Regions from separate parts of the Homo sapiens genome. Here region 1 is linked to region 2. The links come from fine-mapping of genetic effects on gene expression. A gene starts in region 2. The other region holds a variant in brackets. All regions are shown on one strand. Distances are from middle to middle.

What was found.
Region 1: its variant is fine-mapped to the expression of H1-10-AS1 in whole blood (TOPMed, PIP above 0.99).

Annotation. Positions count from the first base shown.
Region 1 is chr3:129,292,811-129,298,177 of GRCh38, reverse strand. The region is part of intron 4 of HMCES (5-hydroxymethylcytosine binding, ES cell specific); the gene reads right to left. Among named protein-coding and RNA genes, the nearest start is that of HMCES, 17 kb to the right of the region's middle. The variant G/T (reference allele first, on the strand shown) is at 2,723.
Region 2 is chr3:129,313,901-129,319,267 of GRCh38, reverse strand. It overlaps H1-10-AS1 (H1-10 antisense RNA 1), which reads right to left and starts at 2,997. Exons shown (of 5, transcript NR_026991.1): 1 at 1,923-2,997; 2 at 958-1,336; 3 at 631-725. H1-10 (H1.10 linker histone) reads left to right here and starts at 2,982. Exons shown (of 1, transcript NM_006026.4): 1 at 2,982-4,497. The coding sequence starts at 3,366. The coding sequence ends at 4,007. RefSeq lists silencers at 2,504-2,843, 3,644-3,773, 4,154-4,443.

The DNA.
Region 1 (5,367 bases), 21 kb after region 2:
CTATAGATTCATGGCTCCTTAATACTTTCAGAATTTAACACCTTCACTGGACATTTAGGCCTTCCGTGAACTGGCCCACCATTCTAGCTATTACTTACATTGTTAATTTGAACCCAAACCAGCTGTTGGTAAATGAAGCTCTCATGCAATTTCATGCTCCTGTGTCTTGCTGAAGCAACCTTCCTCTGCCCAAAATGTCCTTCCCACCCTTTCTTAATTGAATTGAATTTCATGCCAATTCCTAATTGCCATTCAAAATTCAATTCAAGGACTAAAATGTAGAAAGCTGGAAAGAACGTCACTTCTATTCTAACAATAAGAAAAAAGCTGGATAATATGCAAAATTATAACTTTTCTTAAACTCATCAGAGAGGTAAGTCGATCAATTTCCCTGAAATTTAAGAAAAGACAAGGTCCTCCAAGGGGCAATGGGACACAAGTACTGGCTTATTGGCAGCATCAGGAGGGAGACACAAGCCTTCATACAACCAGGTTAAGAATTCAGATAATGTTATTATCACATTTCTACAAGCAGCGTACAGGCTAGCAGGATAGTACAGAATCCCTAGGAGCTGCAAACCTCAGAGGAGTTTGCACCAGCTCACAGGCTTTTCTCCTTGGACTTTGCCAGTGCTCGAAAAAGACGGCACAGGGCAGGAGCCTGGAGGAAGCCATCCTCACTGTTGAATACCTTAAAGGCAAGCTCCTCTGCCTCACCTAATCACTTTTCCCCTAAGGAGCAAAAGTCTTAAGCTGCCAGGGAAACGGTAATAATAATAATCCCTGTCACGCCTAGGAATCAGGTAAAGACCCACAGAGGCTGGGGAAGGAGAAAAAGAAAAAGCCCCCTACGCCCTGGGGAAGACTGAGTCAGAGAGCCACATCTGCTTAAGATAGACTGAACGGAGAACTGCCTCCACCCGTTTAGCCGACAAACATTAAGTGACAAGCAGAAGCAGTCTACTTCTGGAAGAGGGAAAAGGGCACAAGAAAGACCATGTCTAAGGCACAGGCTCACAGGAAAATCCAACAACTGAAGAGAGGAGGGCTGCTGAGAAACCCTCTGGAAAGTCAATCCTTACCCTAAACACTGGATAACACCAGAGCACTTGAAAGCCTGTGTCAAACAAAGGCACTGTAGCCTGGTCGTGGTGGCTCATGCCTGTCATCCCAGCACTTTGGGAGGCCGAGGCAGGCGGATCACGAGGTCAGGAGATCGAGACCATCCTGGCTAACACGGTGAAACCCCGTCTCTACTAAAAATACAAAAAATTAGCTGGGCCTGGTGACGGGCGCCTGTAGTCCCAGCTACTCGGGAGGCTGAGGCGGAGCTTGCAGTGAGCCGAGATCGCACCACTGCACTCCAGCCTGGGCAACAGAGGGAGACTCTGTCTCAAAAACAAAAACAAAAACAAAACAAAGGCACTGTAATGAGAACAAAGCCCAAACCCAGTTCAATTCCTGACAAGACTGACTTAACCCCATATATTAATGGCCTAATAGAAGAATTTCCAGACATAAATATTATTAATCTCAGTCTCTGTCCTACATATCATCTCTGGCAACAATAAAAAATTACAAGACACACAAAAAAAGCTAAAGCAATCAACCACCAAGAGATATAGAAATTAACAGAACCAGATTCAAGAGATTATATTTCCCAGATGCTGAAATTATCAGAGAACTTGAAGTAAGTAAAATTAATGTCAAAGACTCTTGTGGAAAATGTGGACAACATATATGAACAGATAAGGAACGTTAGCAGAGAGACAGAAACTATAAGAAAGACTCAGTGAACTTAAAGATAGGTCAATAATGGCCAGGCGCAGAGGCTCATGCCTGTAATCCCAATACTCTGGGAGGCCAAGGCAGGCAGATCACTTGAGGTCAGGCGTTCAAGACCCACCTGGCCAACCTTATCAAACCCCGTCTCTACTAAAAATACAAAAAAAATTAGCTGGGCATGGTGGTGCATGCCTGTAATCCCAGCTATTTGGGAGGCTGAGGCAGAATTGTTTGAACCTGGGAAGTAGGGGTTGCAGTGAGCCAAGATTGCACCACTGTACTCCAGCTTGGGTGACAGAGCGAGACTTCATCTCAAAAAAAGAAAAAAAACGGTCAGTGAAAAGTATCTAAACTGAAACAGAGAAGAAAAAAAGAAAGAAAAATGGAGAGAATATCCAAGAACGATGGTACAATTAAATCATCTAACACATGTGTCATTAGAATCCCAGAAAGAGAAAATGGGGCAGAAGAAATATTTGAAGAGGAAAAAGCCAAGAAATTTCCATAAATTATGAAAGATATCAAACTGCAGATCCAAGCAGCAAAGAGAATAGGCTAAAACACATACACACAATGTATTCAAACAGCTGCCCTAAGAGAAAATCTTAAAAGCAGGGGTGGAGGGAGGTGGAGGGGAAGGTGGTGAGAGCAGCACACATTTATGCATTACATACAAAAGAAAAAAGACAGTTATACACTAGACTTCTCAAAAAAACTATGAGAGCCAGAGACAATGAAGTGTATTTTTTTAAAGTACTGAAAGAAAACAAAACACCACTGACCCAGAATCTTATATACGGTGAAAAATACCAGACAGTGGTTGCCAGGGGTTAAAGACAGGGAGGTATGGAAAGTGACTACTAATGGGTGTGGTTTTATTTGGGGTTGATAACAGCATTCTGGAATTAGTGATGATGGCTGCACAACATTTTGTGGG[G/T]TTTTTTTTGTTTTTTTTTTTGATAGAGTCTCACTGTGTCACCTAGGCTGGAGTGTAGTGGTGTGATCTCGGCTCACTGCAACTTCGACCTCCTAAGCTCAAGTGATCTTCCCACGTCAGACTCCCAAGTAGCTGGGACCACAGGCACGAGCCACCATGCATGGTTAATTTTAGAGCCACTGTGCCTGGCCAAGGTTTTGAATATACTAAAAACCACTGTACATTTTAAAAGGGTGAATTTTATTATATGTGAATTATATATCAATAAAAAGCATGAATTTTTTTTTTTTTTTTTTTGAGATGGAGTCTCACTCTGTCGCCCAGGCTGGAGTGCAGTGGCGCCATCTCGGTTCACTGCAAGCTCTGCCTCCTGGGTTCATGCCATTCTCCTGCCTCAGCCTCCCAAGTAGCTGGGACTACAGGTGCCCGCCACCACGCCCGGCTAATTTTTTGTGTGTTTTTAGTAGAGATGGGGTTTCACCGTGTTAGCCAAGATGGTCTCGATTTCCTGACCTGGTGATCCGCCCACCTCGGCCTCCCGAAGTGCTGGGATTACAGGCATGAGCCACTGTGCCCGGCCCTGATGATTTTTTAAAATAAAGAAATAGATACTTTTTCAGACAAAAAAAAAATCAGAATTTATTACCAGCAGACCCACACTACAAGAAAAATTAAAGTCCTTCAGGCAGAAGGGCTGTAATACCAGAGAGAAAACTGGATCTATACAAATAAGTGAAGATCCATGGAAATGGCTAAAATGAAGGTACGTGTACAAAGACTTTTCTTATTTTTTACCACTCTAAAACATAATTGACCATCTACAGTAAAATAGCAATGTATTGTAAGTTTATAGTATATGTAAAAATAAAATGCATAACAGTAGCCCAAAAGACAGGAGGAACTGGGAGAATACTGTTGTAAGGTATTTTCAATAGTAATGTAGTGTATAAAGACAGAATGTTATTAACTTAAAATGTATGCTGTAAGCTGTAGGGCAACTACTAAAAACATTTATTTATTTATTATTTTTTTTGAGACGGAGTCTCACTCTGTTGCCCAGGCTGGAGCACAGTGGCGCAATCTTGGCTCACTGCAAGCTCCGCCTCCCGGGTTCATACCATTCTCCTGCCTCAGCCTCCCAAGTAGCTGGGACTACAGGCACCCACCACTGCACCAGGCTAATTTTTTTTTTGTATTTTTAGTAGAGACAGGGTTTCTCTACTGTTAGCCACGATGGTCTTGATCTCCTGACCTCATGATCCGCCCGCCTTAGCCTCCCAAAGTGCTGGGATTAGAGTTGTAAGCCACTGCGCCCGGCCTAAAGACATTTTTTGAGAGGCAAAAATAATAAGCCAATAATAGAGATGAAATGCAATTATAAAAGATTATTCCCAAAACAGAAAGATCAGGAGAAAAGGAACAAAGAGTTGATGGAACAAATAGAAAACTAGCAAAACAATGGATTTTAACCCAATCACATCAATAATTACATTAAATTAAATGTTCTAAACACAAATTAAAAGAATGATTGTCAGACTGAATCAAAAAGGAAAATCCAACTATCTGTAGTGTAAAAATTAAGTTCAAGTCCAGGCGCAGTAGCTCATGCCTGTAATCCCAGCACTTAGGGGGTGCTGAGGCAGGCGGATCACCTGAGGTCAGGAGTTAGAGACCAGCCTGGCTAACATGGTGAAACCCTGTCTCTACTAAAAATACAAAAATTAGCCAGACATGGTGGCACGCACCTGTAATCCCGGCTATTCAGGCGGCCGAGGCAGAATTGCTTGAACCCAGGAGGTGGAGGTTGCAGTGAGCTAAGACCACACCATTGCACTCCATCCTGGGCAACAAGAGTGAAACTCTGTCTCAAAAAAAAAAAAAAAAAAAAAAAAAAGAATTAATGTATATTAAGCTAATACACATTAAGTTCCTAGAAAGAGTAACTGACTAGTAGTAAGTGCTTAATATTTGCTATTATAATTGATAGATGTTTTATAAATTAATCTTGTCTTGTACCAAATCATTTGTGTGTTACTAGACTGGCTAGACTGGGAATTTTCTTTTTTAATTTATGTTTTATTTCAATAGGTTTCTGGGGAACAGGTGGTGTCTGGTTACATGAATAAATTCTTTAGTGGTGATTTCTGAGATTTTGGTGCACCCATCACTGATAGGGAATTATCTGAGGGTGAGGCAAACTCTCTTGACTACTGAAACTGCCCCAAAGAGTTAAAAAACAAACAAACAAACAAAAACACCAATGACTAAATTCTTGGGCTTACAGGATAGCACATAAGAAAATAACTTGCTGAAACAGTGAAACTCCCTCCGCTTGTAAGATAACAAAACTGGCTGAATTGGTTGGAACCAATAACTGACTAGAGTATATGCAAAACAAGCTTGCTTATATCACAGCCTGAATTTCCACCACATTTCACACTAACTCCCCCTGAATTTGCACATGAGACCTATATGGAGGCAGGAAGAGATAACTGCACATACCTGAAGACTTTCCAGGCCTCCCCTTTCCTTCCACCAATCACCTACTAATCCCAGAATCCACTCCCTAAACATTTTTTTAATAAAAGTACTCCTTAAAGCCAGCTAGGGAGACAGAGTTGAGCTGGACTCCTGTCTTCTTGTTA
Region 2 (5,367 bases):
GCCCGTGTGCCCACCAAGGCTGGTGTGGGGTCTGAGCTGCATCCTCCGTGTCCTCCCCCCGGGACTGGACAGCACTGCCCTGCCCACAGGGCTCCAGCCCTGTGTTGACTGCTTCTCCCCTGCAGTCCCAGCCAGGTCCCCCGGGGCACCGTGGCTGCGAGCCTGGCCGCTCTCCTCAGTGCCCGGACTGCGGCTCTACTTTGTGAGTGGCTGTACTGGCTGCGGTGCCCAGCCCTCCTCTCTCGAATCTCCTCTCCTCAGATGTCATGAAGGAGGCCACACCTGGGTCCCGCCTTCCTCCGTGACCCTGTCCCTTTGTCTCCACTAGAGCATCCCCTTCCTCCAGCACAGATGACCCAGGAGTGTCCCTGGCCCAGCCTGTGGCTGCAGCCAGCTCCAGAGTGGCATGTCCAGCATGCCACTCCTCCCCCCTGCGGTGGCTGCACAAAAGGCCAAGCGATGGCCCTGTTGCCCATGGCTGGGACTCCTTCAGGGGTATCGCTTCTGCTCACCCTTTAACTTTTCAAAAGACCCAAGCTCAAGCCCCTTGTATTAGTCCATTCTCACAAAGCTATAAAGAACTACCTGAGACTGGGTAATTTACAAAGATAAGAGGTTTAATTGGCTCACGGTTCCGCAGCTGTACAGGAAGCACAGGGCATCAACTTCTTGGGAGGCCTCAGGGAGCTTTTACTCATGGCAAAAGGTGAAGTGGAGCAGGTGTCCTACATGGCAGGGGCGGGACCAAGAGAGGGAGTCAGGGGAGGTGCAACACGCTTTCAAACAACCAGATCTCATGATAGCTCACCATCATGAGGACATCACCGAGGGAATGGTGCTAAACCATTAGAATCCACTCCCATGATCTGATCACCTCCCACCAGGACCCACCTCCAACACTGAGGATTAAAACTGAACCTAAAATTTGGGTGGGAACACAGATCCAAATCATATCACCTGCTCTGGGTCATGGCCGGGCTGCCTCCCCTCCACCTGGTTCCAGGGCCGGCTCTTTTGGGTTTCCTGCTCCCATCCCATCTCTGTACACTGCGGTCACTCCAGCTGTGGCCACCATGTTCCTCTCCCCAGAGTCCCCTCTGCACATCCTCAGAAGGCTCCTGGTCCTGAGCACCCTGATCAGTGGGCCCAGCACACACAGCTGGCTGTTCCTCTCACGTCCTCCATGCAGCCAGCCTGGCCTGGAAACAGCTGTGCAGTTTCGGCAGGCTCAGCTGGGTGGTGCTTTCAGAAACCCATCCCCGTTCTCTGTCAGGAAATTCACATGGTCCTTCTTCAAGAAGGTGGAGGCCTCAGGCCCTCAACGTTGTCCTGTGCCCTGGAGACAGTCCACTCAGCCAGTCCTTCCTGGGAAAGGAGCCCATCCTCCTCTGCAGGGACCTGGGCTGCAATCTCTCTTCTCACTTTTCTCAGGGTACCTGGTGCTCTGGGGGGCGAAGGCTGTTTCCTGGCTCCATGCCCCTGCCAGCCTCCCCCCTAAAAAACCCATCCAGGCTCACCGTTTCCTCCTAGACATAATTTCTTCCTCTCTGGGGTTTATTCCCTTGACAGGGTGACAAAATGGGGGGCGTGTGTGTGTGTGAAAGGGGTGAGCTGGAGAAGAGGGGAGGTGCTGCTAGCCCTCACCCAGAGAAGCCTGCTTGGGCCCAAGGCCACAAATGCACCAACCCACCCCCTTTTCAGGGCCTTTTACTCTGTCCACCTGTAAATGTTCCTGTCTCTCACTCTGGGAACCCCAATTCGCCAGCGTCCTGTCCCCCCTCACCCCTCCATCGCTTTTCTATGCTGGGCCTCTGGAGACTGTCTCCTGCCTGCAACCCTGCCACCCCCCAGCCCCAGCCCCACTCCTGTGCCCTACATCACCTACCCCCAAAGGGATCCCCTCTCCTACCCGAGCATCTTACCCTGGCCTCAGCTTCCCCAAGTGGAGGCTGCAACGGCTTCAACAAAAACTGTCCTGTGCCTTCTCTGCACCCCCAATACTGGAATCAGCAGAGATCGGGCCGCCAGCCTTGCACAAGCCCCCCCGGGGAGGGTGGGGCCCGGGACCCTCTCCAGGACATGGTCTCCTTTGCTGTGTTCCCGCCATCATTTCCCTGTGCACGGGAGAGGGGGAGGGGTGCACCCAGGAACTAAGAGCGAATCCCTTCCCCATCCTCTCACAGGAATTCCTCTGGGTGTCACAGCCTCACCCCCGCCCACCCTGTCCCACCCTGGAGCCCCCATTTGGCTTTGGGGGGACCGGCGGCAGCTACTTGTGGATTACAAAATGAGGCCCTGGGAACATCAGCGGCAACAGGGTGGGGGGAGCGGCGAGGCAGTGTCCCTAGAGAGGTCCTGCCGTAGTCCTCCATTCCCCGGGTTGTGCCTAGGCTCCCAGAGGCACAACCAGAACCCGGGGTGCAGCTGGAGAGTGCCTCCCATCCGCCATCCCCTTTGGATGGGGCGGAAAACCCCCGAGGATGTCCTAGCGCAGTTCACGTTGCCCCAGCCGACCACGTGAGGGCGCGCCCTGTGTTAGTTTGGACAAATTAAAGCTCCTCTTGCGGGCAGGCCTGGAGCCCCCCGGGCCGGGACAAGGCTCGGGTGCCCGTGGCGTTCTCTGGGTTGCCGGCCGCCAAGCTCCCGGCCGTGGGGCCTCCTCTGGGGCCCGCGCTATTGGCCTCCAAACGAGGTGCCCCCCTCCTCTCGCGCTCCCGCAGCCTAGGGTGCACCTCTCCGTTCGCCTTTGCTGAGCCCTTCCAGGACGCAAGTCGCCTCTCCACTGCGCCGGGAGCTCAGGCCCTGTCCGGGGCGCCCCGCTGCGGGCGCGGCGGCGCTGGAGAGGCGCGGTCCGAGAAGCCAGCGGCCGGAGAAGGGGCTCCAAGAAGCACAAGTTGGCGCTGGCCCCGGACCAGGCTGTTGTTGTTCTCAACGTGGTCCGCCATGAAGCTATAAAAAGCCGAGAGAAGCGCCCTCCCGCCAGAGCGCAGCGCGCACGCCCAGCGAGTTCCAGAGGCGCCAGTGGAAGCTGCGGCGGCGGTGTCTCGCGTTCGGCGGGATTTCTCTTCGCTCCGGCTCGGCCTAGGTCTACGTCCCCAGCTCCAGCCGCCGGCTCGGACTCGGTCTCTGACCCCCAACTCGGTCCCCTAGTCCGGCCCCGGCTCCGGGCCCCCCAACCCTCGCTCCGGCCCGGCCCGGCCCCCACCCCAGCCCTGCCGCCCGGCCCCAGGCCCGGCCGCGGCCGCTCCCGCCTGGAGCCGCCGCGCGCCCCCAGCCCCCCTGCACCCCCTCGGCCCCTCGCCTTCCTCTTCCCGGCGCGGCCCCCCGGCTTCCGCGCGCCGCCCGCCACCAATCCTCTTGCTACCATGTCCGTGGAGCTCGAGGAGGCCCTGCCAGTGACGACCGCCGAGGGAATGGCCAAGAAGGTGACCAAGGCTGGCGGCTCGGCGGCGTTGTCCCCATCTAAGAAGAGGAAGAATAGCAAGAAGAAGAACCAGCCGGGCAAGTACAGCCAGCTGGTGGTGGAGACCATCCGTAGGCTGGGCGAGCGCAACGGCTCGTCGCTGGCCAAGATCTACACCGAGGCCAAGAAGGTTCCGTGGTTCGACCAGCAGAATGGGCGCACCTACCTCAAGTACTCGATCAAGGCGCTGGTGCAGAACGACACGCTTCTGCAGGTGAAGGGCACCGGCGCCAACGGTTCCTTCAAGCTCAACCGCAAGAAGCTGGAGGGCGGCGGGGAGCGGCGCGGAGCCCCGGCGGCCGCCACCGCCCCGGCCCCCACCGCGCACAAAGCGAAGAAGGCAGCCCCGGGCGCGGCCGGCTCCCGGCGCGCGGACAAGAAGCCCGCCAGGGGCCAGAAGCCGGAGCAGCGCTCGCACAAGAAGGGCGCTGGCGCCAAGAAGGACAAAGGCGGCAAGGCCAAGAAGACGGCGGCCGCCGGGGGCAAGAAGGTGAAGAAGGCGGCCAAGCCCAGCGTCCCCAAAGTGCCCAAGGGCCGCAAGTGAGCGTGTCGGCCGGTCAGAGCGGCCGGCGTGGGCTTTTCGGTGTTTTTGTTTTTCTACCCCAAGTGACGTAGATTTTGTACGGCTCACGCCGGCCGGGGCCGCGAGGCCTGGTCTGAGCCTCAGGGAGGGGCCCCGGGTCCTCTCAGTCTTTCCCCTCCCCCAACGATGTAGCGTTTTTCGTTGTTTGCTTTAGGTTTTTGAAACAGCCCCGGCGACGCCTCTATTGGCTCTCGGCCTTGGCAACGGCCGTCGTCATGGTTACTGGCCCCTAGGCGCCGATGGCCGAGGCCGCGCCTGCCCACCGGGCGGGGTCGCTGGTTGGCCGGGCCCAGGCGCGCGGGGACGCGGAGGCCGCGCATCCTTTCCCAGCTCCCCACCCTCCTTGCCTTTGGGTGCGCGACAAACAATCGCTCCGGGCTCAGGGCTGCGCGGCTCTTCCCTTCATTCCATGGGCCTTTTTTTGGGCACAATAAAGCGTTTAAACCTTTCAGCCTCTCTCGTTTAATCTGAGTGGAATAGGGATGGGCGCCTTCGGCACGCGGGGTTGGATGGCGGGCCCCTCGGGTCCTTATACCCCAGATCTGTTGGCCAGGGTAGGCCTGGAGCCAGGGGCCTTCAGCAAGGGGTGGGAATTGCTGGCTTGGGACGAACTTAAAGTACCTGGGACAGGGAGATAGACAGGATCGGTCCCTTAGGAGGGATGGATCTATCTGCCCCCACAGGGGGTCCATCGGCCATTGCGGGGAGCGGGATGGGGGAGGGGAGAGGAGGGGGGATTAATGGGTTTTCAGAGTTAATGGTCAGGGACCTAAACTTGGCCTCCAGAGAGGTAGTTCTTACAAAGTCACACCAGACTGGCCTGTAAACTTAGTCATTCTGACTCCAGCGAGGGTTAGAGTGAGATGTGACCAGGACGAAGTGTGGTGGCCAGAGAGTGGAGTTCCTGACCACAATCCAACGTGTGGTCTCAGAAGGGTATTTGCTGTCTCTGAGCCTATTGGTTAAGCTAGAGTGCAAACGGGACCCAAAGGATTGCTGGGAAAATTAGTAGGAGCAGAAGGATCTCCAGCCCTGGGACATTCTGGTATCCAGCATGTGGGATAGTTGTCTGTCCAGTTGGGCAATAGGTCAAGGTCTATTCTAACAGATGTCCCTAAAAATGGACAACTGCAAAACAGGCCCCCAAGGGCAGTGGAAACAGGGAAGCTTCTGAAACAGTGGATATATACTCATACCAGCGTGAGTGACTGGAGTTAGGTGAGAATGCAGGAGAGCTCGTTTTACCCTCTGTGTAAGAAATTGCAGAAACTACAGGTGGAGGCAGGACCTCCTGGCCATAGACTGGAGAGGAGGGAGCATT